Homo sapiens: one gene and its partners. The protein of the gene in region 2 purifies or fractionates together with the protein of the main gene of each other region. This does not show direct contact. Each region holds a gene or a part of one and is shown on either strand. Other genes may lie near its edges.

The links.
Region 1: the proteins of TUBGCP3 (region 2) and NEDD1 purify together in Homo sapiens (affinity purification with mass spectrometry; 3 studies listed by BioGRID and IntAct, with this or other methods). This does not show direct contact.
Region 3: the proteins of TUBGCP3 (region 2) and MZT2B purify together in Homo sapiens (affinity purification with mass spectrometry; 5 studies listed by BioGRID and IntAct, with this or other methods). This does not show direct contact.
Region 4: the proteins of TUBGCP3 (region 2) and LGALS3BP purify together in Homo sapiens (affinity purification with mass spectrometry; 5 studies listed by BioGRID and IntAct, with this or other methods). This does not show direct contact.

Annotation. Positions count from the first base shown.
Region 1 is NC_000012.12:96,945,245-96,952,267, reverse strand, and holds part of NEDD1 (protein NEDD1), read right to left. Parts: intron 6,576-7,023; coding exon 6,419-6,575; intron 837-6,418; coding exon 770-836; intron 320-769; coding exon 215-319; 3' UTR 1-214. UniProt on the Homo sapiens protein: Required for mitosis progression. Promotes the nucleation of microtubules from the spindle.
Region 2 is NC_000013.11:112,585,142-112,592,996, forward strand, and holds the start of TUBGCP3 (gamma-tubulin complex component 3), read right to left. Parts: upstream 3,013-7,855; 5' UTR 2,840-3,012; coding exon 2,764-2,839; intron 2,281-2,763; exon of another isoform or gene 2,089-2,280; intron 1-2,088. UniProt on the Homo sapiens protein: Component of the gamma-tubulin ring complex (gTuRC) which mediates microtubule nucleation.
Region 3 is NC_000002.12:130,178,357-130,185,281, forward strand, and holds the start of MZT2B (mitotic-spindle organizing protein 2B), read left to right. Parts: upstream 1-3,905; 5' UTR 3,906-3,926; coding exon 3,927-4,096; intron 4,097-4,270; coding exon 4,271-4,419; intron 4,420-5,430; coding exon of another isoform or gene 5,431-5,610; intron 5,611-6,925. Other genes in the region: SMPD4 (sphingomyelin phosphodiesterase 4), read right to left, coding at 2,940-3,245. UniProt on the Homo sapiens protein: Required for the recruitment and the assembly of the gamma-tubulin ring complex (gTuRC) at the centrosome.
Region 4 is NC_000017.11:78,976,920-78,983,993, reverse strand, and holds the start of LGALS3BP (galectin-3-binding protein precursor), read left to right. Parts: upstream 1-4,070; 5' UTR 4,071-4,170; intron 4,171-6,779; 5' UTR 6,780-6,802; coding exon 6,803-6,854; intron 6,855-7,074.

The DNA of each region.
Region 1 (7,023 bases), on a different chromosome or scaffold from region 2:
CCTATTGGGTAGATGACATACTGTACAATTTTTAATATAAAAATATACATATTTTTAAGATGAAACAGTTGTTGGTATAAAATCCCATCATCCTTTTACTCTTACTTGAAAAACATTTTTTCCCTGGAGGCCATGAAAACAATACTGATTCTATGTAGTTCTGTGTTGCCAGAAACTTCCCAAATTACAGAACATTAAGGTATTCACTGAAATTTCAAAAGTGGGCCCGTAATCTTTTGTTTTCTTCTCGTAGTCTTTCAATTTCAGCCACTAAACCTTCATTCACTGAGTATCTTTCCAGCAAAGAATGCATTTCATTCTAGAAAAACAGGAAAATGCTTTTTAAATTATTGATATTTCACATTTATTTGGCAGGCTATGTTTAATATACTTTCAGCTATCATTTCTCTCATGTTCAATTAACTAGGTGAATGATATTTCTTGTACTTAACAACTTACTAGTTTGTTAATATAAATGGAAGATCGTTGGTGAAATTAGTATATTTGGAAAATTTATATTTGCACATTTAAAATGCTTTTTGCTTACTTATCAGGAAGAAAGCCATGGAAAAAAGAAGGCTTAAGTATCTCAGAGGTTAAAAAGGAGGTGACCAGTTAAAATCTATTTTACTTATTTAGTCTATAAAACTCCCTATTTATCTTAGAAACTAAACAAAACAACTAAAATATATTACCTTTCATGGATTTTTAAAAATTCACACAACTCTACTTTCATTTAAAATATTAAAATAAAATTTGCCATACATACCAGTTGCATATGAAACTGTTTAATCATCTCCACTTGCAAATTCACAATGTCCCTATGGCATGCTTCTCTAGGAAGAATGTAAAATACTTTTTAGAATTACAATAGTTTAACCAATTCTAGGTCATTCAAGAAACTCACTAAACTTTTTCATTTGCCAAATTACTGAATGTTAATAATTACTATAATAATAAAAATACCAATGCACTGAGCATTTATTCACTATGTGCTAGGCACTGTTTCCTTTACTTTAAATGTAAGAACTCGTTTAAAATATCTTCACAAGTAGATGCAATTATTACAGGTCCATTTTACAAAAGAAATAACTTAACCAGAGTAGATATAACTTGTTCAAAGTCACACAACCAGTAAATGATGGAGCTAGGATGTAAACCCAGGCTGTTTAACCCCTGAACTCTCCGATACTATATTCCTTTATATAGAAATTGTCATTAAGACACAAACTTATCTTACAATGAAATACAGAAAATTCACTAGGTTAGAAAGATCATTTTATTATTATCAGTTTAGCTATTGAAAAAATGTACTTTCAGTATAAAGTGGCAATTTGGGTGGATATAGCATGGCTTACTCAATAAAATACAATTAATTCATGCCTACAAAAGAATATGTAAAAATTATTAAGTATAATAACAAAAGAAACACTCAGTCACCCACCACACAACTTATGAACTAGAACATTACCAAATAATAGAAGCTTCCTGTGTGTTCCTGTCTGATTCTATCACTTAACTCTTGGGAAAAAGCCCAAGAAAGAAGTCATTACTCTCCTGAATTTTGTTGGACAAAGAAATGCTTTTGCTTTTTTAATACATTTGTATAACATATAATCTGTAGTCAATGTTTTCATTGTGCATGTTTTTGAGCATTACAAAAAAGGGTACCATATAGCTTATATTTAAGAAATAATTCAATATTGTTTTGAAGATTCATGTTTTATATATCTGTATATCATTAGTTTGTACTGGTGTATCTATTTTCCTGTTAATATTTTGACTGTTTTCAAGTTTTTACTATTCCAACGTTGTTATAAACAATCATGTATTATCTCCAAACCCACATGTGCCAATGTCCATTGATGATATAACCAACTGTAACTCAAGTGTATACTTTTACAAAATCATGCAAATTGTTTTCCAAAGGTAGTTATCAATGGATGTCACCAGTATAACAGAGTTCTTCTTGCTCTATATCATCAAGACTTAGTATTACCAGATTTTTTATATTTTCCCATTTACTCGGTGTGACACGGTATCTCATTGCATTTTTAGTTCTCTGATTAATTGTGAAGTTGAATATCTTTCCTGTGTTCATATACCATTCCTCTTCCTTGAAATGCTTTTTCATATCTTTTTCTTATTCATTTATAAGCATTCTTTACATAATCTGATCCTTTGTTATTTATATGAGAACTGCAGGTATCTTCTTATCCCTTCACTCTGTGATATTGTGTGATAAATAGTTCTTATTAATGTGCTCAAATATACTAATAATGCAGTCAAATTTACCAATGTATTTTTATAGGCAGTGCATTATTTTATTTTTAATGATTTCCTACCATGAAGTTATAAACTTTTATAAAGTCAACTTTTAATCTACATGGAACTGATTTTTCTCAATTGCATGGAATCTATACTTATTTTTTACAGGAAAAAACAAATGTCACAACACAACTTACTGATTATTCCATTTTTTGCACATAAATCTGCAATGCTACCTCTCTATTATTTCCATATATGCATAGGTTTCTTTCCAGCTTATTTCATTCCTTTGGCCAGTATGTCATCCCTGTGCCATGCTATATATCTTAATTATACTTTAATAATTAAGTGTATTCATCTGACAAATAAGTCCCCTTCAACCTTATTCTTCTCTGAAATGTCTTAGTTATTCTTAGATTTTTTTCCTTCCATACATATTTTGGAATCACTTCATCATCTTCTTCCAAATCCCAGCTGGGATTTTAATTGGAATTGCATTCAATCTACTGACCTATTTAGGTGAACTAATATCTTTATAATCTCTCCATTTATTTAAATGTTAATGCTTTTAAACAAAAAAAATTTTTAATGTTTTTCTACAAAAATCTTCACTACCTTTGGTAGATTTATTCCCAAGTAACTTATTGTTTTTCTGTTCTAACTATGAGGGTATTTTTAAAAATTTCCTCTTCTACTTTCAATTATAGTAAAAACTGTATTGAAAACAAACAAAAACACTGTATCAGGGAACCATTGAGGTAGCCAGGACTTGAAGGGCCATGATCTTGCAAACGAAAGACTACTAGGTAAGCTCTTCATTTACCTCTGTTTTTCCTTCTAGAGTATGTGCTGATTCCACAGTGTGGAGAAGAAACCGAGCTGAAGCAGTGGCCTGGAGGTTGAGATAGTCTCGCTGGGTGGGGGAGTATTAAGAGTTTGGGCCTACCAAGGTAGCCAAGGCTGTAAGAGCCAAGGTCTTGAAGAGAGGAGGCCTGCAGAAAACTAAGCCTGAAACTGTGGAATTTCCCCTCAAGACATCTGTTGACTTCTAAGCAATGCTCCCCCTGGGTTAGATGGCAGGAAACCAACCAAAAAACAAGTAACTAAAGAGCAGAGAAAGTATTCTGGAAGTCTTGTGATGCTGGCAAAATAGAGGCTGAAGTTTGGGACCCACCAAGGTAAAAAAGACAGTGAATACTCCAGACATTCAGCTGATGTCCTAGAAAAGACTACACACTAGGAATAAAGGCAAACTGGAAACAAACTAGTGCTAAGAAAACCTGAACCTAGTAACCAAAGGATCAAAGGGATCTGCTTGCCAAAAGAAACTTAAATCTTCTTAATAGACAACAGAAACAGATGCACAGATTTCCACTTAGGATGTATTAGGTTGGTGCAAAAGTATAATTTCTCAACTCTAATAACGAAAACAAACCTGATAACCTATAAAATCATATTATTTTAAATTCAACCGAGAGCTGAGAATGGAAAGAAATCTAAATGAACTAAAATCCAGAAAATGAGGAGTTCCTCTTAGGAGAAAAGAGACCCATGACTAGGAGAAAAGAGACCCATCTTCATGCCCTTGACAGAGTAAAAAGAACTAGCTGAAATTTTAATAAGATTTTTAAAAGCCAAGTAAACACTGCTTGATAGTTTAGAATTCCAAGGGGTCCCAGCCACAAGGAGAGTCTCAATTTACTCACCAACTTTTTCCCACAAGCCTTCATTCAGCGCTCATGTAAAAAAAGTAGGGACAAGTGTAACAGGAGGGCTGAGGGAGACTCCCTAAGATACAGATGCACAGAGCCTGGTGAAACCTTAGGGCAGCAGAGAAGAACTGAGAGTAACCCCTCTAAGGCACTCCAGGCTCTCATGGAGAAGATGGCAGCCACGGGAGGATGGCTGAGAAAGAGGTCCTCAATACCCTCTCTGTCCTGCCAATGATAGGTGTAGATGAACACCTAGTCTGATGAACACCTAGGCAAATGGCAAAACAAGTGAATTTATGGAAATCCTCTGAGCCACTCTGGGTCTTCACTGCGTCCCAGGCAGAGGCTGCCTATGGTCAAAGGGCAGAAGAGCTGAGAGAAGTCCCTACCCACCACTCCTAGGTGCAGACATGCAGCACAGGGCAGCAAAACCAAGAGGCACTGACTGTACGTCTTCACCAAACGTGCTGCAGCAGCTCTGCAGGGCTGAAAGTGGGACAGACACACTTCTCCTGAGGCACAGAAAGCCAGGAACAGGTTAGATAGTGAAAAACAAGCTCCAGCCACCCCGAAAGCTGGCAGCAGGGCAGAAATGCACAGCGATTTCAGAGTTGCTCCAGCACTCAGATCCCTGGGTCTGCTGAAGGAAAGGCCCTGAGCCCACTGTCCTCAAATCATCTGAAGCCAGTGGTGAACTGACACCCAAATGCTTGTTGAATAAATGGGTAATAAATAGACAGCACCCATTACTCCTGTGCTTAAAAACTCTGATGGCTCTCCATTACCTGTGTGTTAAGACCTTCACAACTGTCCCTCAGGCCTGGTCTCTTACCACGGTGCCTTCTCTCTGCAAACATTCCTAGAATGTATGATCATGTCTCTGCTCAAGCTGTTCCCACACACATCAGTATAAAATAAAATCTCTTCAGTGTACCTTTCTAAATCTGCCCCCACAGAAGAACTGCTCCCTTTCTGTGATTTCAACATCACTTTGCTCACACTGTATTATAGTCAGCTGTATCCAGACAGTTCTACTATTATGCCATAAATATTTATGCACTCCTGAAAAAAACGTATATTCTTTAACACTGTGTATTAAAAATAACAGAACTTAGGGAAAAAGGATTAGGGCAAAGCACTCAAAAACCTATGCAACTTTGTAACCAGAGCACAACAAAAACAATTAAATCCTAATAAAAATACTAACATAGTTAAAAAGACATAGTAAAAATCTAATAGATAATTATTGAATAATACCCTTACTGTGAAGAAGTGATGGTCACTTAATGGAAGAGGATAGAAGGATTGCGGCTATCAAGTTACAGAGGCAAGAGCAAAATGCCCAAAGATGGGAAATAATCACAAAATAAGTACTTCTAACAGACCACACAGCCAAGCCAAGAGGAAGTGAATAAAAAGAGATGGATGCTGACGGGGTTTGCTGCATTCAGCTGTGTTCAGGTGTACTTTATTTTGGCTGCTATTACACGAACAAACAAAATTTCCTCATCATATTGTCAACAGTGTTCTATTCTACTGATCCCAAATGAATTAATTCACATTAAGAGAAACACACATGGCAGAACACACTGCACCTAGCCCAACTACATCACAAGGCCTTTGTGGCAGATCATTTGATGTATCCTTAGTATCTGGTACATATACTAGGTAGGGTAAATGCCAAAATTACAATTTTTCTTTAAAAAGTATTTTTCGACATTTAAAAATATATTTTAAAAGTATTTTAAAACATTAAAAGGAAGCATGCACCAACAAAAACTGCACATTTTCTCCAACATTCTTGCTTACGGTAATCCAAATCTGAGCTACAACATTAACTATAGGTTAGAAAGGAAAAAAGGCACCAATGATTTTAATAATTGAAGATAGCTTCCAAAAATATTGAGATGATAAAAGAAAGCAGCATTGTAGAACACATTCTTAGAATGTTCACAATTCGAAGGATGAGACAGACAAGGATAAGTCTGAGAAAGAATTTTTTTTAGATTAAGTATTACATTCTGATGCATTCTATTGGAAAACATTCAGAATTGTGCTTTAAAGTATCTTTTTCTACTACATTATTGCACACAGCATACCTAATAGATCTATGAACATACTGCAGGTTAAGAACCCAATTTAAGCTTACCAGAACTTGTCCACATTTTAATAATAAAAAAAGTTCACAATGGCAGTCTACCTGCTAGACTGCCCTGCTGAGTTACCTAATAATTGCCCTAGGTAAATGTGCCTTTTCCTGGCTCATAATCAATAAATGCAGTACGAAAAGATCAACAAAACTCATTATGTTTTCTATGGCTTTAGGATTACCAGAACCTAGACAATAGTAACCAACAACATTATCTATAGTTCTGGTTTTACATCTAAAAAAAAAACAAGTAAGGTCTAGATAGAAGGAGTAGTTTCTCAATTACTACCTAAAGTCATCCAACGTTTCCTGTATCATGTTCTGAATAAAACGAATTTGAATGGAAGTCAATGGTGCATTTTGCCGGTTATTTCCAATGCTGTCGGCTATTTTTTCTGAGAGTGAACTGGCAACTCCAGCAGTGACAGAAGATGCTATCTTTGGATCTAAAATAAAGAATGAAGAAAATATTAATAGTCAACTTGGACTGAGAGACATCAAACATTTCTAAATAAGATTTGGCATGTGCAAACTTGAAAAACTGGCAAAGAAGAGTGTTCCTGTGACATTTAGAAAAATTCACTGTCTGGAATACAAATCTTAGAAACTTTCTATAACATTATTTCTAATAGTCATTTATCTATATATATAAACTGCCAGCTGTCTAATGTAATACCACATGACAGAGGGATTAATCTTGAAGAATCTATGAACCATTTCCTCTTATAAAAGATGAATGTGACAAGCTGCACCATAAACTAGATAAACCAAGACTATTAAAAACAAACCGAAGGAAAATAGGAGTAAAGTACTGCTACAGGAAAAGCCTTAGAGTTTAAGCTAATGCAATATATATCCACAGAAAACTTCAAGCAAAATATAGATATTTATATG
Region 2 (7,855 bases):
TACTAAAAAAAATGTATTACAAAAGCATAAGGCCAATTGTAATATGTCATCAAAGAATAAGGTAATTAATCAAATATTCTATGGAGTTACCAGATAAAATGCTCACTAATCAAATTTTTAACACCAAATATTGTAAAGGTAGTAATTAATATTGCTCCTTTGCTCACTAAGGTATAACAAATGAAAGAACAAGGTAAGCTACTATTTATAAATTCTTCAGTAAATAGCAGCATAATTTAAAATTATATCATAAATGCTTGACAATCCTAGCTATCTAGAACATAGCAAAAAGAGCATCACCTTTAATGGACTTCATGACATAATTTATTCAGAGAGGGCCGGGCGCAGTGGCTCGTGCCTGTAATCCCAGCACTTTGGGAGGCCAAGCGGCAGGGGGGTGGGGTGCAGATCACTTGAGGTCAGGAGTTGGAGACCAGCCTGGCCACATGGTGAAACCCCATCTCTACTAAAAACACAAAAATTAGCCAGGAGTGCTGGCATACACCTGTAATCCCAACTACTTGGGGGGCTGATGCAGGAGAATCACTTGAAGGAGGCAGAGGTTGCAGTGAGCCCAGATCATGCCACTGCACTCCAGCCTAGGTGACAGAGCAAGACTCCATCTCAAATAAATAAATAAATAAATTATTTATTCAGAGAGGACCCTGTCAGGATCTGAGAGCCCACTTTTAGACACAGTTCTAAATGGGAAGATAGTAGGATACAGAATTTTGCTGAAAAGAAGCTTTTCAGTCTCTTAGAAGGGACAAAACTTTTATATCAAAGAATCTTCAATGTAAAAAAAAAAAAGTTTTTGGCTGGGCGCGGTGGCTCACACCTCTAATCCCAGCACTTCGGGAGGCCGAGGCGGGTGCATCACGAGGTCAGGAGATCGAAACCATCCTGGCTAACACAGTGAAACCCCGTCTCTACTAAAAATACAAAAAATGAGCCAGGCGTGGTGGCGGGCGCCTGTAGTCCCAGCTACTCGGGAGGCTGAGGCAGGAGAATGGCATGAACCCGGAAGGTAGAGCTTGGCAGTGAGCCGAGATCACACCACTGCACTCCAGCCTGGGCGACCAGAGTGAGACTCTGTCTCAAAAAAAAAAAAAAGTTCTTAGGTTGAGAAATATCATTCTAGCTCATGATGAATGAATTTCAAAATCCAATTATAACAATGGGAATGTATGAATGTGTGGTTTATCCCTAGAAAAAAAAACTCTGGAACCACTGGTATAAGGAAAACACTGACATTAAGGTGGGTAAGTCCTAACAATCTTAGTTTTATCTGATTCCCCCTATGACGAGGAACATGAAACATGTGAAAGGAAACTCAGTCTGCTAATGACAAAAACAAACGATGGCAGGCCATGCTCATACCTCAAGACCTTTCCACTGGTTCTCTCTACTCAGAACCTTCCCCAGATGTTCAAATGGCCCTCCCTTACTCCATTCAGGTCTCTTTAAATATCTCAGAGGCTTTCCCTCACCTGCCTCTTCCCTCTCTATTCCTTTACCCTACTTTTTCGCCACAGTACTTATTGCTAATTAACATGGCTGGTTTATCATCTGTCTCTTCCAGTAGAGTGTCTGTCAGATCTGTGGGAGGAATGACTTGTGCATCTGCATCACCAGCACTTAGCACAGTTCCCGGGGGGAACTTTGAGGACGGGGTTGTCCTCAAAGATTTCTTAGATAAATAAAGTGATAGAATCAAACTTTACAAGATGCAGCAAGAACTGTGTGAAGTCACTCATTTAATAGCGACACAAAATTATTCATGATTGCCCCAAGATTATCATAGAACATCCAATGAATTATGTACAGTAATTGTCATGAAGCATGAAAGGTCAAAATGCATTCTCAGTACTTTAAATGTAACTTTGAAGTCTTCCTTCAAAAATTGAGTAACTTCTTTTCCACATTTTGGTGCTTAAGATGTAACTCAGTTGCTTCCATTACTCAGAAAATTCCCTCATGGTGCATCCTCACTCTCTGCCCCACCAACCTGGCCAAAACAAGGAGCAAGAAATGGCATCCTGTACCATTTCTTTCAAAGTACCTCGACTACAAAATGGTTTTACCTACCGTATAGGATTAGTTTTGCTTATTAGTAACAATATTCGCCATGTGAACTTTCCCAGAATAGTTTTATATCAAATCCAACCTTCAACCCTTTAAACAGTAGGAAAACACGGCAGTTACAGTCGTTAACACCCTCTTCCCATAATACTCAAGCCTGTTAAACTTTCCTAACGAAAAGGGACGATGATGTGACACTCCAGCACCCCGCATCCACCTCCGCGGCGCAGCCGCTCTCTCCACCCCACAGGATGAACCCAAAGGCGCGCAGAGGCGCCCTCCCACGGCGCGTGACACCAGAGAAGGGGGATAAATTGGCGAGCTGGCATTCCTCCCGTCCTCACTGACGGACCCGCGAGCGGAGTGAGCGGTGACTCAGCCCGCTCCGGCTCGGCTCCGCCCTCCCGCCTCCCGCCCCGGCGTTCTCGCCCCGGCCTTGGCCTCTCCACTCCCTCCGCCCCGGTCCTGGCCCCCAGCCCTCCGCTGTCCTCCCCGGCTCCCTGACCCTCGAACCCCAGCCCTCCGCTCCCTCGTCCGGGCCCCACGTCCTCGGCCCGTCCCCCAGCCCTCTGCCCGGCCCTGCATCCTCGTTCCTCCAGCCCCGGAACGTATTAGGGCTGCACGCGCAGGGAGCAGCCCCCGGGACGGGTCTGCGGGCTTCGCGTCGCCCGGCCACTCTACCTTCGCTCCTGCCCAGGATCCTGCAGCACAGGTTCTGCAGCAGAACGTTCGGCGACTTCTGGTCCGGGGTCGCCATCCTCGCCCGGAGCCGTGCACGGTGGTCCGGGCAGAGCCGCCACTGCCGCCGCACGCGCAGGGACCGCGGCCCGCGCCCTTCCTGCGCCCCGCAAGCTCCCTGCTCCTGACAGGCTAAGGCGCGGGCGCCGCCGGCCACCAGGGCGCCATTTTAACGGAACCCGCCGAAAGCGCGGGCGCTTCCCACAATGCCCCGCTTCTTCCCTGCGCCGCGGCCGCGCGTGCGGCTGCCTAAGCGTTCCCGGCCCTGTCTGGTGCATTCCCCCTGCTGCTGCCCGGTCGGCCGAGAAAGTTCCGGGCGACAGGTGGCCCGAGGCCCTCGAGCTGCGCGGACAGAGCGGCCCCGGAGTCGCGAGCGTGACGGGCTTGCTTGGAGGGCACTTGGTGGCCGGTAGCACCATAAAGGCCATAATTTGGTGTGTGGGTGTGGGGGTGTGTGTGTTAACGGCATTGGTTTGATTCACACTTCTGATGAAAGAAGCCTGTTTAAAAAAGAAAAGAAAAAAGAAGCCTGTTTAAAGGGTGCAGGGTGTTACGATTGTTAACGTGCAGTGGGCAGTTCACCTGCTACGCTATCCAACAGGCGCCCTGCTCAGGCCCGACCTCGCACTGCCGCGCGGGCCGGTCCCCCCCGGCCCGGGTAACTGGGACGTCCTGGGAAAATAAATTAATCACGTACGGAGTGAGAGAACAGGAAACCTGCCGAGAAAAAGATCGATAAGCAGACAATTACACCAAGCCAACTTCAGTGCAATCGTTAAAGCTTACACATGGGTGCACGCTTGGGAGCCGTGAGCTACCATGTTAAAAGGCCAACTTCCTAAGGAAAAATGATGGAAAGAGATCCCGAGATCCTATGAAATGGAAGAGGGAGGACAACCCAGCTATCCCAACATCCCAGCTGAGGCCAGCCACACACGTGACTGTCTGCAAAGCCCGTCGGGCCTGGGTCCAGCTCAGGTTGCAGAATTGTTGGCAAGTAAAACGTTTGTTGTCGTTCTGACTCAAAAACATGGAGACAAAGCAGACTTGTAGGGTATTACAGTCAACAACTAGACCCTACAGCTAAAGGACTGTCTCCTTGCATGATGCAACAACCATCACAGCTCTGCAAGAGCAACCAAACCACCAAGGATGCGATCACCCCTCACTGCCTTCGATACGCATTCTGTGGAAACGCTTCTAAACTTGCATCACACTCAACACGATCAGTTAGTAACTGGCTTCTCATGAAGTTATTCTCTCAGCCGCATACTACAATGTCCAGATGTCATCTAAATCCTGCCACCCTCTCCCCCACCTTCAGCTGAAACGCTGCATGACTGCATCATCTTACCTGACCAGCTCTCTCCTAGGACAGACATGCAAGAACCCCCCTCACTAACGCTGATGTTATTTGGTTTACAGATGGCTCTTACTTAAAGATGCAGCTGGAAGGTATTACACTGGTTATGCCATAGCGTCTTTGCCCAAAGAAATAGAAAGTGCTTGTCTTCCAGGAGCAATCATCTCAACAAGCAAAGTTAATAGCATTAATTAGAGCCTGTCAGTTGGCAAAAGGAATAACTGCTAATCTTTATACCAATAGCAGGTATGCTTATAGAGTAGCTCATAACTTTGGAATGCTATGGAGACAAAGGATTTTTAACCTTTTCTAGTCAGCCCACAAAAAAATGGGTGCCTTGTTTCAGAATTATGGCAAGCCATACTATTGCCAAAATCATTAGCCATTATCAAGATTCCAGGCCATTCAAAGACACTCAAAAAAGCAAGATAAGCCAGTTAGCAGGTAGTATAGCAAACAGGGTGGCCATAAACATATCTGAACAAAAAGATCAAACCATTTTGGCCTTTAAGGAAGTTAGATTTTTATGTAAAATTAGCTCAATCTAAATCTCCAAAAACAGGACGAGAAAATTGGGAAACAAAAGTGGCACATGCGCTTCTGAGACTGATGTACGGTTTGACCAAATGTTCTACTCATACTTCCAACTAAGTTACAACCATCTTTCTTTTTTTTTTTTTCTTTTTCAGATGGAGTCTCGCTCTGTTGCCCAGGCTGGAGTGCAATGGCGTGAACTCCACCTCCTGGGTTCACGCAATTCTCCTGCCTCAGCCTCTTGACTAGCTGGGACTACAGGCACCCGCCACCATGCCGGGCTAATTTTTTGTATTTTTAGTAGAGACGGGGTTACACTCTGTTAGCCAGAATGGTCTCGATCTCCTGACCTCGTGATGTGCCCGCCTCGGCCTCCCAAAGTGCTGGGATTACAGGCGTGAGCCACCGCGCCCGGTCCAGCCATCTTTCTTAACGTGCATACACGATGTGACTCACTGGAGCCCTGATAAGATTATTGATTTCTTGAGGAGAACAATGTTGTCGGAAACCTTCTCCAACTGTTGCTCACGGGTATACAGTCAGGGCTGTCTTCCCAGAATATAATGCAAGGAAACCTTGACCCAGTTCTCCATGTCATTTTCCTTTACCAGAAGGCCCTTTCGAGGTATGGCAACTAGATTTTTTCAGCTACCACCATCACAAAGATACAGGCACATCCTAGTGATGGTTTGTGTATTTTCTCATGGGTAGAAGCATTTCCATGCAGAAGAGCAGCAGCCTTGGCGGTAAGTAAAATTATCTTAGAGAAAATTATTCCGATTTGGGGAGTTCCTCAAGAACTTTATAGCAACAGAGGCACTCATTTCACTGCACAAATAATCCAGTTAGTATGCAAAATCTGGCCCATTTTCCAGCATTTCCATTGTGCCTATCACCCCAGTCATCTGGGTTAGTAGAATGCACAAGCAGAATAATCAAAACTCATTTGGCAAAATTAACTGAAGTTTTAAAACTCCCTTGACTGGAAGCTCTTTCTTGTTTTTGCTTCACCTAAGATCAGCCCTTATGGGTAAACACCAACTGTCTTCATCTGAAATTATAACGGACAGACCTATGAAATTGTCTCCAGGAAATTGTAAATCGATGATATTAAAAAGGGACAGGTTGTATTATTGCAGCAGCCTCATAAGGCACCTAAGTAAAAACTGTTATTTAGTAAAAGATTCTTTCCACAGTGAGCTCCAAGAAGCAAAAACTCAAGGAACACATACTTCAGCCAGGAGACTTTGTAGGAAACAGCATCCTTTAAAGGACTTTCTCCACCAAGGAGGAAGGAACCTTATCAGGGACTCCTAACCAACCCTTGTGCCACTAAGCTTAAAGGAGTTGATTCCTGGATACCTGCCACCCATGCAAGGAAAGCTGCTTTGTCAATTTGGACTTCATCTCAAATTGGTGATCTAAAACTAAAACTCTCCAGAACCAACAAGGATGAGAAGAAAACAACATGTGAGGCGATCAGCCTTCTCAAGACACCTGACCAGGCCTGTATCTAGACAAACCCTTAATATAATCATCGTCAGTAGATGAGGAAGGTCTTCCTTTACAAGTTCCCACCACACTTCCTTCTTTTTGTCCCTAGTTCTTCTGTTTTGTTGCTACCATCACCAGCCATTGCCCATGAAACAAACATCTTCTTGCAGTAGGCTTGGGCCTGTGCTAGTAAATTACAGGACAACACTCGTTAGGTGTGTGGCCTTGCGCCCCTTTCTGGTGGTTCTGGCCTACCATGGTGGCAGCTCCTCTTCAAGGACAAGAGTAGACAGAATATCAGAAATGTGTCTGTGTTTCTCAGGACAGTCATTGGTGCTTAGCACTAGTATGATGAAGGCAAGTGTGCATCACTGGCCTATGAATGATACTTTACAAAGCAAAAGCCATAGGAAGAGCTTTCCAGTAAAAGTCCACATACCTTAATGCTGGTACTACACCAGCTGAGAGATTAGACCACTCAATATCGGGATGGCATAACACAAACTTGGGATGGTTTCACCTGACTTACCCTCTCTTTGGGTCAACTTAGTTCACGTGCCCCTTTACATTGGGAACAAAAGAATCATATCAAAGATCCCTGGCCCAGGAGCACTGGAGATACGGGATGGAACCCAGAGAACAGTGCATCTACACCATTGTGTTACAGAGTCCTGGCTGGCATGCCACTGAGTGGGCATAGTGACCGGGTGTTTACTGGTTGGCTCCAGATGGAACATCTGGACTCTGTGATAATGACCTATGGCCATGGTTACCCCCAAGGTGGCCAGGACACCATTCTCTGCATTATGCCTGGACATAGGATGGAATAGTTCACAACCGACATAGATAGTAGATAAAACTAGGTAGTCTGAATAATTCAAAGTATGGACTTTGATTCATAATGCTTCAATACTGGTTCTTAAATGTAACAAACAACACACTTTTAATCTGTGCATTGTGAGGTGCTGAGCGAGAGGGGCCGGCTGCCAGGTGCCGGGTGGTGGGTGGGTCAAAGGCCAAACGCAGGTTCCACCAGGCAGGTGTCACTCCCGGCAGGAGTAGAAACCAGAGGCCTCACTGAGAGTGCCAGCCCCCACCCTGGTGTTTCATTTTCCCCCACGGCACTGGGTGAAGGTTAGGTGTGTCTGTGAAGACAGCAGTGAAGGGATACTGTCTCACTGCCCAGAGAGCCCCTAACAAAAGGTTTCTGCCATTCTATGGCCCTGGAGTCAGGGGAAGAGAGAGAGGGAGGCAGCTGAGAGTGGAAAAGTGCTGAATGCAAAGTCAGAGTGGGAAAAATGTCTTCCAGGCCCCCTGAAAAGGAGGCTTTGGCAGAGGTACCTAAGACAGGCCTCAGCCAAGGGACCCATGTGGTCTCGGAAGGGAGGTGCCTGGGTTGGGCACAGGGGATACCCAGGGCACCCAGGTCCTTCCCCGCAACAGCCTTCAGACACGGCAGTGCACTGGCCACACACCATGAGGCAGCCAGGTGGGGCCTTTGTCATCACCCGTGGTCAGACCTGAAAGATCCCACAGGGCATTTGGGCTGCAGCCAGCCAACTTTCCAGGCAGCATGTTGCATTCCAACTCTGTTTCAATAAAACTAGTTTCGAAAAAGAAAGAAACATTTCAAAATATTGACGG
Region 3 (6,925 bases), on a different chromosome or scaffold from region 2:
TGGCAGAACCAAGATTCCAATACAAACACCACCTCACAAAACTGAGACAGGGGCAAATCCCCTCCATATTACCTGTGCACTATGCAATGAACGGAGGGGAAGAGCAAGCTCTGCCAAGGGAGCCTTTGAATAAGCCATGAGAAAACTAGGATCAAAGGCCGGGCACCATGGCTCACACCTGTAATCCCAGCACTTTGGGAGGCCGCGGTGGGCAGATCACTTGAGGCCAGGAGTTTGAGACCAGTCTGGCCAACGTGGCAAAACCCCATCTCTACTAAAAATATAAAAATTAGCTGGGTGTGGTGGCGGGCACCTGTAGTCCCAGCAACTCGGGAGGCTGAGGCATGAGAAATGCTTGAGCCCAGGAGGCGGAGGTTGCAGTGAGCCAAGATCACACCATTGCACTCTAGCCGGGGTGATAGAGGGAAACTCTCAAAAAATGGAAAAAAAAAAAGAAAAAAAAAGAAAGAAAACTAAGATCAGCTTTCCAGAATCCTACCTCTCAGCTCACCCAGGTCAGAAATGAAAAATGCTCAGACCTAGACTTCACAGACAGGAAGTCTGCCAAGTCCCACTGGTGGGCTAGTTACAGTTTTCATGGCCCAGCTCTGCCCACTGCACAAGTAAAGGCACTGGGGTGACACCTGGCAGTCTGTGGAGGAAGAGAGGCTGGGTGTAAAGAGGCCATGTAGGCAGCTGTAGAGTGAGAGGAGACAGGAATCTCTGCCTCTCGGCAATAGGAACATCTCCCAAGTTTTTTCAATTCTTTTTTTTTTTTTTTTTTTGAGACAGAGTCTCGCTCTGTTGCCCAGGCTAGAGTCCTGTGGCGCTATCTTGGCTCACTGCAAGCTCCGCTTGGGTTCACGCCATTCTCCTGCCTCAGCCTCCCGAGTAGCTGGGACCACAGGCACTGGCCACCACACCCGGCTAATTTTTTTGTATTTTTAGTAGAGACGGGGTTTCACTGTATTAGCCAGGATGGTCTCGATCTCCTGACCTCGTGATCCGCCTGCCTCGGCCTCCCAAAGTGATGGGCTTACAGGCATGACCCACCGCGCCCAGCCTCTTTTTTCTTTTTTTGACTGAGTCTCACTCCATCATCTCACTGCAACCTCCACCTCCAAAGTTCAAACGGTTCTCGTGCCTCAGCCTCCCGAGTAGCTGGGATTACAGGGGCCTGCCACCACAGGCTGCCTAATTTTTCTATTTTTAGTAGAGGCGGGTTTCCCTATGCTGGCCAGGCTGGTCTCAAATTCCTGGCCTCAAGTGATCCGCTGCCTCAGCCTCCCAAAGTGCCGACTTTTTCAATTCTTTTTTGAGATGGAGTCTCGCTCCGTTGCCAAGCTGGAGTCCAATGGCATGATCTCGGCTCACTGCAACTTCCGACTCCCTGGTTCAAGCAATTCTCCTGCCTCAGCCTCCCGAGTAGCTGGAATTACAGGCACATGCCACCACATCCAGTTAATTTTTGTATTTTTAGTAGAGATGGGGTTTCACTATGTTGGCCAGACTGGTCTCAAACTCCTGACCTCGTGATCAGCCCTCCTCGGCCTCCCAAAGTGCAGAGATTACAGACGTGAGTCACCATGCCCGGCCGCTTTTTCTTTTTTCTCCTTTTTTTTTTTTTGAGATGGTCTCGCTCTGTCGCCCAGAGTGGAGTGCAGTGGCGCGATCTGGGCTCACTGCAAGCTCCGCCTCCCGGGTTCACGCCATTCTCCTGCCTCAGCCTCCCTAGTAGCTGGGATTACAGGCGCCCGCCACCACGCCCGGCTAATTGTTTTTTGTATTTTTAGTAGACAGGGTTTCACGTGTTAGCCAGGATGGTCTCGATCTCCTGACCTCGTGATCCGCCCGCCTCAGCCTCCCAAAGTGCTAGGATTACAAGCGTGAGCCACTGCGCCCGGCCAGCTTTCTCTTTTTCTTTTTTCAGACGGAGTCTCGCTCTGGGCTCTGTCGCACAGGCTGGAGTGCAGTGGCGCGATCTCAGCTCACTGCAACCTCCGCCTCGCGGGTGCAAGCAATTCTCTTACTCAGCCTCCCAAGTGGCTGGGATTACAGGCGCCCGCTACCACGCCCGGCTAATTTTTGTATTTTTTACTAGAGACGAGGTTTCACCATCTTGGCCAGGCTGGTCTTGAACTCCTGACCTCGTGATCCACCCGCCTGGGCCTCCCAAAGTGCTGGGATTACAGGCGTGAGTCACCGCTCCCGGCCTCAATTCTTAACCTAGCTATCAACTGCAGTGTTAAAGAAAAACGCCTCAGTCCTAAGGCACTTGGTCAAGAAAACGCTGCACTACTACAAAATGATCAAAGCAGCATTAAACTGTGGACTGTTCGGTAAGTGCGGAGCTCTAGAGACGATGAAGGGGAGAGCATCTCTGCTCAGAAGAAGCTTTCATGGGCAGCGACTGAAAGAATGAGGCCCAGAGGAATTTCTAGGAAATTTCCAAGAAAGGAAATTCAAACCCGAGAATTCCCAAGAGGTGTCTCCCACACCCCTGTTATCTGACTCTGCCATGGCCACCCTCCCCCGTCACAGGTCTCTGCGTGCCATGCACCTAGAGTCCACTTCATGGCGACTCTCCAACACCTATTTTCTCCAGGAGCTGCTTCGGACCCCGTTTGTTTTTTGTTTTGTTTTGTTTTTCTGACAGCGACAGCCCTTGGGCAACGCTAATCATTCCAAGCAAATTCTGTCATGCCAAGACCTCCCTTAACAGCACGCGCCCACTTGTTCCCAACTCTCCTGCCAATTGGGCTTCGGGAGCCTCCAAAACCAAGGCTCGGAGATGTGGAGCACACAGGGGAAGGGTCGAGCTGGGACCCACACCCGGCTCTTACACCCACACCGCCTGTTGAGCCCAAGGCTCAACTTCAACACAAAGCTCTCCTTCCCTCAATTCCTTCAACGAAGGTTAACCTTCAGCGAACACCTACCGGACCGGGACAGAGTGTACGAGCCGCGCGGGAAGGTGGCACAAAGGCATGGCCCAGAGGGGTGGCAGAAGACTCAACCGGGGCCCTCCACTCCCCAGCCTGCCCTGCCTGGGCAGAGCCGGCTGGCCGGCCCGAGTCCTGGGGCTCGCGGAGGAACGGAGATGGCCTCCGCAGGGGCTCGGGGAAGCCCCCAGGGCGCCGGACCGTCTCAGGCGCGCATCCCGCGCCACTCACCTGTGGGATCCATAGCGTCGCTCGCCTCAGAGATGGAAGCCGCCATTCCGCCACGGCGCCGAAAGTCGTCATCAAGCTGCGCGCAGAGCCACGCCCCGCGGCCGGGCGGGAAAAGCGCTTCCACCTCTTTGGGCCGTTACCTCAAAAGGCGCGTGCGCAAAGCGAAGGCCGGCCGGGCGGGGAAGAGAAATGGCGAGGCAGGAGTGCGGGGGAGGGAGTGGTCCTTAGCTGAATGCGCCTGCGTTGTGGCGGCCTCCGGCGCCCCAAGGTACTTTCTCCCCAGCAAGGAATCCGCGTGCGCGTAAGCAGTATTGTTGATTAGTGCCCCCCCCTTCCCCCCGCCCGCCCCGAAAAGCGACCCCTAGTGGTGCACCGGTGCGGACCAGAAAATTGCACGCTTTCTTGAAAGAGGCATTTACCGAGCGCCCAATGTATGCCTGGCACTGGGCTGGGTGCTGCCACCTAAGCGAGCACGACCAATGCAGTCTATCAGGGAGGCCCAGATCGCCAAGCAGCGGACCCCTGCGGTCCGCCATGCCACTCCCGGCTCCTAGAGCGCCGCTCAGCACACCGTGAGCGCCCAATAACTGTTGGGCTTCAATGACGCCGCGGAGGCGGCCCCGTCCCCGCGCTCCCGCCCCTCCCGCCAGGGCAGCCCGGGAGGCCAGACGTTGACGCTGCAGGGAGAGGGTGGTGGGCGCAGCCGCTAGGGGGCGCGGCGGGGCGGAGCGCACCTTTCCGCGGGCCGCGGGGATGGCGGCGCAGGGCGTAGGGCCTGGGCCGGGGTCGGCGGCGCCCCCGGGGCTGGAGGCGGCCCGGCAGAAGCTGGCGCTGCGGCGGAAGAAGGTGCTGAGCACCGAGGAGATGGAGCTGTACGAGCTGGCGCAGGCGGCGGGCGGCGCTATCGACCCCGACGTGTTCAAGTGAGCGGGGCGGGTGGGGGCCGCATGCTAGCCAGACACCCCCCGACCTCTGCTTTCCGGGTACGCCCGGCCCGCTGGTCGGGAGGAGCCCCCGCCCCCGTCCTTGTCGGGTCTTCAGGGAGGTGGCCGCGCCGGGCGGAGAGGGCTCACCGGCCCCGCGTCTGTCCCCGCCAGGATCCTGGTGGACCTGCTGAAGCTGAACGTGGCCCCCCTCGCCGTCTTCCAGATGCTCAAGTCCATGTGTGCCGGGCAGAGGCTAGCGAGCGAGCCCCAGGACCCTGCGGCCGTGTCTCTGCCCACGTCGAGCGTGCCCGAGACCCGAGGTCAGAGCTGGGCCCGCTGTCCCTGCCCCAGTGGCGGGGGTGGCGGGCGGGGAGGGGGCAGGCGCGGCACAGCGGCGGCGTGGCCCTGAGTGGCCAGGCCTGTCTGTCGGTCTAGGCCCAGCACCTGCAGGGCCCATCCGTGGGCTCTGCTCCTGGGCTTCGCTGCCAGCCTTAGGAGGCACGTCCAGGTCAGGTGGACGCAGAGTGCGTACCCCAGGGTGGTCCAGGCTGGGTAGGGCTCCTCCGCTTAGCTCCCCTCCACCTCTTCACTCAGGCCTTCATCCTACAACGTCGGGAATCAAGACAGTTTGGGGCTGGGCGCCCTGGCTCACGCCTATAATCTTTGGGACCCCAGGGCGGGAGGATCGTTTGAGGCCATGAGTTTTAGACCACTCTGGGTGACAGGGTGAGATCCTGTCTCTAAATGTTTTTCAAAAGACAGTCTCGATCTCTGTCCTGTGGTATACAGCATCCAGGGAAGTGCCCAGGGACCAGGGCAGGCAGAGGTCTTCCTGCCTTTACCCCACCTGGGCCCAGTTCCTGCGCAGGGGCTTGGCCAGTCCTGGTCAGCTTTCCCTCTGATGACTGCAGGAAGAGAGTCAGACGCGGAACTCCCAGGGTGCAGAGGCCTGCGGGGTCTGAAGGGCCTCCTCCCTCTCCAGTGTGGTGACTGGGCTGAGGAGATTCTGGGACTGAGAGTGTCATGGTGGAGCCTCTGTCCCTGCTCATCCTCTCCGCATGTTGCTTCTGCTCCCGATGGCTCTCTCTGAAATGCAGCACAACCTCCTAGGCCAATGGAAGAAGGCCCAGAGCTGGCTCCCTGCCTGGAAGCACGAGGAGACCCGCACAGGCATCCTGAGAAGGCGTGGAGAGCAGGCTGCCTTCATGGGGGGAGTGCCAGGGCCTGGGCACCCACACCCGCTGACCCAAGAGGGCCCGGGCACCTGCGTGCTGGCCTCTTCACTGACCTTCGCTCTGTCTGCTCTCTTTGTGTCTCTCTCTGACCTCCAGAGGCCTCCTTTCTCTCTGCCAGGAACAGTAGCCCCCCTGCAAGGCCCTCCTTTTCCTCCAGCCCGCAGCCTGCGGCCTCTCCGGTTCTGCTCCACAGCCCGGCTGCCACACACTCGCCTCTCTCTCCAGGCCCCCCGGGTTCCCTCCGCCTCTCTTGCTGCCTGTTCTCTCCTTTTGCAGGTTGCGTTTATTGGCTTATCTCTGGGGGTTGGTGCTCTCCCTTGTTTCCATGGAAACTGCCTGGCCCCAGGAGGCCCAAGCAGCTTTGAGCTCCAAGGGCAGGACCATGCAGGCCATCGCTGCCCTGCCGCTTAGCCACAGGGCACGATTTCTGACTCGGTTTATTAGAGACATAGTGTGGCAGTCTCTAGACCCCACAGTCGGGCTGGCATCTGGGGACAGGACCAACACCCCCACACCCCAGAGGCGAACTGTGGTGAGTGTAAAGAGCCCCTCTCCAAGGGAAGACAGCCGGCCAGAGTGCGGTGTGCTGTGCTGGAGAGCACAGCCCCAGGCGTGACAAACACCTCGGCCTCTTAGAAGTTGTCCCTTATCTGGACAGGAAGTCTGGAGGCTGAAACAGAGACTCCCACCTTCCCAGAGTCTCCTGGGCAGTGCCACACAGATGCCATATGCTGGCCCCGTGGCCACACTCCAGCACTCAGCCCCCTTGCCCACCTCACTCCTGAGTTAGCACACTTTCCAGGTGTCAGCAGGTGTGATCAGGGGCTCAGAGCCAGGGTCCTGTGAGAGCCCAGGGGTCTTTGGTTGCACCTCCTGCGTGCACTTCCTGACAGCGCCCACCTCACTGCCACCCAGAGCTCGGACCCAAGGGAGGGTGGAGAGGGGCTGAGGGACAGGCCTGGAGTAGGGGTGTATGCACTGCAGGCTGAGATGAGCAATTGAGGGGCAAGTGTCCAGCAGGAGGGAGAAACTGGGAACAGAGTCCTTGTCACTCCAGGGGATGTTGCTGCTCACTCAGCACTCACTCAGGGCTCTGGGAGCCAGGCCTAGCTCTCAGGGCAGAGGGTGTGGCAGGGAAGTGAGATGATCACACTCAGAGCCCAGTGAGAGGCAGTGAGGAAAACCACCAGCGAGACCAGTGTGGTGGCTCACACCTGTAATCCCAGCACTTTGGGAAGTCAAGGCAGGTGGATCCCTTGAGCTCAGGAGTTCAAGACCAGCCTGGGCAACATAGCAAGACCCCATCTCTACAAAAAATACAAAAACTAGCCAGGCAGGGCTGGGCGCGGTGGCTCACGCCTGTAATCCCAGCACTTTGGGAGGCCGAGGCGGGCGGATCTCGAGGTCAGGAGATTGAGACCATCCCGGCTAACACGGTGAAACCCCGTCTCTACTAAAAATACAAAAAAAATTAGCTGGGCGTGGTGGCAGGTGCCTGTAGTCCCAGCTACTCGGGAGGCTGAGGCAGAAGAATGGCGTGAACTTGGGAGGTGGAGCTTACAGTGAGCCGAGATCACACCACTGCACTCCA
Region 4 (7,074 bases), on a different chromosome or scaffold from region 2:
ACCACTGCACTCCAGCCTGGGCGACAGAACGAGACTCTGTCTCAAAAAAAAGAAAAAAAAAAAAAGATAATGAAAAGCAAGCTTTTCATTAAAAATAAAAGTGCAAATCATATATCTGCTACAGGAACAGAATATATATAAAGAACTTACACAACAAACAAGCCAGTTTTCAAACGTGCATAAGATTTGAACAGACGCTTTGCCAAAGAGGATGTGTGAATGACAGAGAAGCATAAAGATGCTCAACATCATTCGTCTTTTTTTTTTTTTTCTGTTTTTTTGAGACGGAGTTTCACTCTTGTTGCCCAGGCTGGAGTGCAATGGCACGATCTCGGCTCACTGCAACCTCTGCCTTCCAGGTTCTAGTGATTCTCCTGCCTCAGCCTGCCAAGTAGCTGGGATTACAGGCATGCGCCACCACGCCCGGCTAATTTTTTTGTATTTTTTAGTTGAGATGGGGTTTCTCCATGTTGATCAGGCTAGTCTCAAACTCCTGACCTCAGGTGATCTGCCCACCTCAGCTTCCCAAAGTGCTGGGATTACAGGCGTGAGCCACAGCACCCGGCCTATCATTCGTCATTATAACCACAATGAAACTTCACTACATGCCCACCAGAATGGATGAAATTTAAAGACTGACAATACCAAGTATTGGTGACGATTTAAACCACTGGAACATGAAGAAATTACTAGCAAGAATGCAAAATGTTTCAGCAACTTTGGAAAACAGTTTCTTTTCTTTTTTTTTTTTTTGAGACGGCATCTCGCTCTGTTGCCCAGGCTGGAGTACCGTGGTGTGATCTCGGCTCACTGCAACCTCTGCCTCCTGGGTTCAAGCGATTCTCCTGCCTCAGCCTCCCGAATAGCTGGGATTACAGGCGCCTACCACCATGTTTGGCTAATTTTTGTATTTTTTTGTAGACACGGGGTTTCACCATCTTGACCAGGCTGGTCTTGAACTCCTGACCTCGTGATCTACCCACCTCAGCCTCCTGAAGTGCTGGGTAGTTTCTTAAAAAGGTAAACATATATCTACCATATGACCCAGTAATCCTGCTCCTAGGTATTTACACAAAATAAATACTTATTTTCACACAAAGACTTGTATCCAAATGTTTCCAGCAGCTTTATGCATAATAGTGGAAGATGGAATGACCCAAATGTCCATCAGTGCAAACATGTATTAACAGTGGTGTTCTGTCCATACAGTGGGCCGCCACCCAGCAAAACCAGGAGCCAGTTACTGATTGTTGAGATAGCATGGATGGATCTCAGAAGCACTGTGGTAAGTAAAAGAAGCCACATGCAAAATATTAAATACTGTATGATTCCATTTAGAGGGAATTCTAGGGTCCAGGAGTGGTGCCTCATGCCTGTAATCCCAGCACTTTGGGAGGCAGAGGCAGGCGGATCACCTGAGTTCAGGGGTTCGAGGCCAGCCTGGCCAATGTGGAGAAACCCCTTCTCTACTAAAAATACAAAAATTAGCTGGGCGTGGTGGTGGGCGCACCTGTAATCCCAGCTACTCGGGAGGCCGAGGCAGGAGAATCACTTGGACCTGAGAGGCAGAGATTGCAGTGAGCCGAGATTGTTCCACTGCACTCCAGCCTGGGCAATGGAGGGAGACTGTGTCTTAAAAAAGAAGACAAAATAGAGGGAATTCTAGGAAAGGCAACCAGCAGTGGCAGAAGCTGAGAGGTGGTTGCTGGGAAGGGGCTGGGGGGAGGGGTGGCTGCAGAGGGGCATAAGAGAATTCTTAGGGGTGATTGAAACGCCCTAGGTAATGATTGTTGTCATGATACCATCGCTACACATTTGCCAAAACTTTGCACGTAAATTATATGCCAAGAAAGCCAATTTTTAAAAAGAAGGAAAGGATGGGTTTGAAACCCCAGTTCTTCCCCTACCAGCTGCACAACTTTAGCCGATTACGTCGCCTCACTGAGCCTCTGTTTTCTCATCTGTAACAGGGAATATAAGAGCAGCTGCTTCCCATCATGGCTGGAAGTATTAAATGCATTCATTTGTGGCAAGGCTTATAGTAATGCCTGGCGAAATCCATATTAGCTATTATAGGGAGCGTTCCTCAATTTGCGGAGAGGTTTGGGGTAGAGGCACAAAAGATGACCTTACAGGCCAGTTAACCATTCTCATCTCTGAAATGCCCCGCACTTTCCCTACCATGTCTTGGGAGCGGCTTCCTGATGACAGCAGTTCTGTCCACACGAATCTGAGGCTTTCACCCAGCTGTCTTCTCAGAGCCGAGCCGCTGCCCCTTCCCCTGCCTGTCCCCTGTCAGCGCTTCCCTCCACCCCATGGTCATCGCACACCGGAAAGGCCTTGCGAGCCCCAGGGGAGCAGATGTTGGTGCTCCGATTCCACGAGGAGGCCTCTGGGTTTTCCATTTTACCTGCCTGGATGGCTTAGGACTTTCCCGGACTCTGGGGCTAAAGATTCGGCACCTGAGTTTTAAAACCTTTCCCAGCACTTCCCAGAGATGCCCTCCCGTCCTCTGCACTCCTGTCCTTCCCTGGCCACTTGGGCAGAAGTCATTAGCACTGCTGAGAAGGGATGATGCTGGGGTTTCTGTGCACTCAGGCCCTTAATCCAGATGAGATTTTTTTAAACTCCCCACAGCCAGTTCTATTTCCAGCTGCACCTGCCCCTGGATCTTCACAGTTCCTCTGGAGGGGATTAGGCAAACCGTGCAGCTGCCTAAAACCTCACACCTTGAAGGAAATAGTCATTGAATGTCTGACCTCTGGGCTGGCTGTCTCGGACTCTAAGCTGCCAGGGAACCAGGGCCTTCCACCCAGTGGGACTGCCTGGGGGCTTTTAAATGCCCCTGCCTGTCCCCTACTCCCAGAGATGGTGACTTCCTGGGTCTAGGCATTAGGAGTTTGTAAAACTCCCTGATGATTCTTCTGTCCAGCCCAGGCTGAGAACCACTGGTCAGAGGCCTGGGCACATCCCAAGGCTCATCCAGAACCATGGGGTGCAAGTGACAGAAACAAGAGCGGCTGCTGATTGCCTCACTGAGCGGTGAAGCCCAGCCTTGACCATGGATTAGGCCAGCTGGACCCAGGAGCTCAGGCCGGAGGATGCCTGCTTCCCTCTGCTCTGCCCCACCGGCCCCAGCAGCCTGGGCCCACATCCTCTCAGTCAGAAGCTGGCTCTCACCGGCTGGCTGGGCTCACAGCCCCACCCTGAAACCAGCAGTGTGGCCCGGGGCCCCCGCAGGGCTCAGACAGCCAGGCCTTGGGTGGTTGAAGGCCAAGAGCTGGGGGCCCTCTGGGAACCACACAGCCGGGAATGGGAGGGGGTGCTCCCCAAGGGACAGTTGAGGTGCCGGCTTTCAGTGGGAGGAAAGGGAATGGGTATGAGCTGGACAGAGCCATTATGTCACCCAGAGAGGCTCTGTCCCCCGCCCCGCTGAGGGGGAGACAGTAGGAGAGTGGCCACAGGTCCAGCAGTGGCGAGCACAGGCTCTGGGGTCAGGTGTTGGAGCAGGGTCCAGCTCCTCCACTGGCCAGCTGCATACCTGGTTCTCAGTGCCTCCCTCCCCTGGGGACAGGGGACAGTGCCATGCAACCTTGTGGGGCACAGGCCCTCTGTGTGGTCAGCATGCCAAGAGCACAGAGAGGGTGGATTTGCACATAAGCAGCCCCCTGTGTGGTGTTCACCCAGCCAGCAACGTGCTAGACCCAGGAAAAGACTCGGAGCGCTCTGTCAGAGTCCACAGCCACACCACCAGGTGCAGACTGTCTGGGCCCAGAGCCTCTGCTTCTTCCCCTCCCGTCCACCAAACGCCAGCCCCTGACCAGCCTGGCGGCCTTTCCAACTGAGTGTGGCTGTTAGTCCTCTTGCAGGCCTTGCTCCAGCCAGACTCCCACCTTGGGCCTCTGCCAGCCTGGCACTGATAGCCACAGGCAGAGCTGAGACAAAAGAGAGGGGCCCTGGGGAGTATCAGCAGCAGCCAATCCCGGAAGACATCTATGTCAGGTGGTTTCTGGAAATCGAAAGTAGACTCTTTTCTGAAGCATTTCCTGGGATCAGCCTGACCACGCTCCATACTGGGAGAGGCTTCTGGGTCAAAGGACCAGTCTGCAGAGGGATCCTGTGGCTGGAAGCGAGGAGGCTCCACACGGCCGTTGCAGCTACCGCAGCCAGGTAAGCTCCTGCCTCTAGCTCTCAGGTGGGCACCCCTCTCAGTCTCTCTCTCTTTTTTATTTTTATTTTTTTTGAGACAGGGTCTCACTCTGTCACCCAGGCTGGAGTACAGTGATGCAATGTCCGCTCACTGCAGCCTCTGCCTCCTGGGTTCAAACGATTCTCCTGCCTCGGCCTCCCAAGTAGCTGGGATTACAGGCGCGTGCCACCACGCCCAGCTAATTTTTGTATTTTTAGTAGAGACAGGGTTTCGCCATCTTGGCCAGGCTGGTCTCAAACTCCTGACCTCTGGTGATCCACCCGCCTCGGCCTCCCAAAGTGTAGGGATTACAGGTGTGAGCCACCGCGCCCGGCCAGGGCACCCCTCTCTCTACACAGGCAAGTGGGGGTCATGCCTCCCTGTTTGCACATAGGCCTGGAGCTGGGGATCCAGGGCTCCTGAGTCCAGCAACAATCATTGCTGCTCCCAGGCCCACAGGGCCTCTGTGTACAGTTGGGCAGATTACTCACTGCACAAGGATACCAGCCAAAGGGCAAGTGGGTTAGAATTCAGCTTGGCCCTCTCTCAGACCTGTGCATTTGGCCTAGGCCTGCACCCACTCCAAGGAAGAGCACCTTTTTTTCTGATTTGCACGAAGGGGCCAACACAGGCAGCCGGGTCTCAACTGTATGAAGGAATCAGGCAAAAATAGCCGCTGCCACACAAAGGGCAGCGACGCCACCTGCCAGGTGCTTCGTTGCCCCCCCCCCTTTTTTTTTTGAGACAGAGTCTTGCTCTGTCACCCAGGCTGGAGTGCAGCGGCTCACTACAATCTCTGCCTGCCGGATTCAAGCAATTCTGTTGCCTCAGCCTCCTGAGTAGCTGGGACTACAGGTGCACACCACCATGCCCAGCTTATTATTATTATTATTTTGTATTTTTAGTAGAGCCGGGGTTTCACCATGTTGGCCAGGCTGGTCTTGAACTCCTGACCTCAAGTGATCCACCTGCCCCAGCCTCCCAAAGTTCTGGGATTACAGGCGTGAGCCATCGCGCCTGGCCAGTTGGCCATTTTTCCAAGGCCCTGAGTTACTCTCCCAGGACGGACAAACCTAGTGGCTGCAGCAGAGTGAAGTGGCTGGGGGCAGAAGTGGAGAGGGCGTCCACCCATACCGGCGTGCCTGGGACTGAGGGGTTTCCCAGGACACAGGGAAACTTCAGTGCTAAAACCAGCACAGTCCCCAGCACACAGGACAGGCGGTCACACCCTGGCCCCTTTAGCCATCTACTGACATTGACACAGGGAGGAGAGGTGGGCTCCCCCGAGCAGACCCCCTGCCTGTGGCTCACTGACTGTGGATGTGGAGCCCATTTGCCTCTCTGGGTGTCAGCTCATTCACTTGTAAGGTGAGGTGTAACTAAGGTGGTTCTCAGGGTCACGGTAAGGCCTCCAGTGGTGCCCGGGGAGCCCCGACAAGGGGTGGCTGCACAGTGCCAGCGAGCACGAGTCCCAGAGCAAAGCTGCTCACCAGCCAGTGCACCCAGCTCCCAGGGCGCTTGTTCATGCAGACTCCCATGCAGAGGGGCTAGGGCAAGGCCAGCCATGACTGCATTTCCGACAAGCTCTGGGGATGCCATTGCAGCCGTCCACCAGGCCCCCTCCAAGCAGCCTCAAGGTCACCAGGCCCAGACTCCCAGCCGGTGCCCACAGCAGTGCCACCCAGAGGCCTGCCCCAGGCTTGCTGAACTGAGGGGACAGTGTCAGGTATCACAGGATTCTTACCGAGCCAGAGAAACCATAACTGTCTCTCCATTGGCAGGGTGTGGGGGAGGGAGGCAGACGAAGACAAAAGCGTGGAAATTACACGGAGGCAAGAACACCAGGCCAGAAGGTGGAGACCCGGACCTCCCCAGTCCTGGCCTGAGTGTCAGTGTCTTGGGGATACTTCAGCATTTCCTCCCTGTTCTTCCCCCAGCCTGGCCCACCCTGGGCTGCAGCCCTGACCCTTTTCATCTATCTTCCCCATCGGAACACCACGGAGCCCCGATATATCTCCCTGCCACTTATCTCTGTCACCCCTCGCCCGGATTCTGTGCCCTCTCCTGACGAGTCCCCTCCCATCCACTCTCCAGGCTGCAGCCTCGTCTCTGCCTGCTGAGACCCTCTGGGACAGTCCCTGCAGGGGTCTGTTGCCTGAAGCTTAAGGCCGAGATCTTAACCAGGCTCACCCGGCCTCCCGACCTGGGCCCACGCCTGTGGCCTCCTCCATCTCCCCGCCCATGCCCGTGTGGCAGCCTTGCCCGGGGCCTGGTTTTTTGAGATGAGCTCACTTGCCTCTAGTCACCAATTCTTGCTGCCCTTACTGCCAGGGGGTGCCCCCAGCCCACGCTTCATCTAGCCAAGTGTTACACATCCTTCCAGGACCACACTGCAGACCAGGTGAGGGGCCCCCGCGGGGGCATCCACAGCACACGTCACACTTACTGGGATCATAGTGGGCTCTGCAAGAGAGGGACCCCGCCTGCCACACAGCCCAGGTTGGGCTGAAGGGTGAATGGGCAGGCCAGTCCCTGGGGCCTCGGGCCATCTGGCTCCCGTGCCTCACCCCTCCGCTTCTGTCTGCTGCAGGATCTGGGCATCCAGGCACGGCCATGACCCCTCCGAGGCTCTTCTGGGTGTGGCTGCTGGTTGCAGGAACCCAAGGTGAGCTGAGCCCCTGGGAAATACCAAAAGCAGAAGTGTGGAAGGCTGGTGCACCCTGGGGCTGCTCAGAGCTTCAAGGAGATATTCTGCCTGGGGCCCGGGGCCCAGCGGTTAGCCAGATCTTCTCTCCTGCTTGAAGCACCAGGTATCCCCAGTGATGATGACTTGGAGGTTCCCGGGGGCTCACCTGGGTTCAGGTGAGATGCAGGTTATAGAGAGG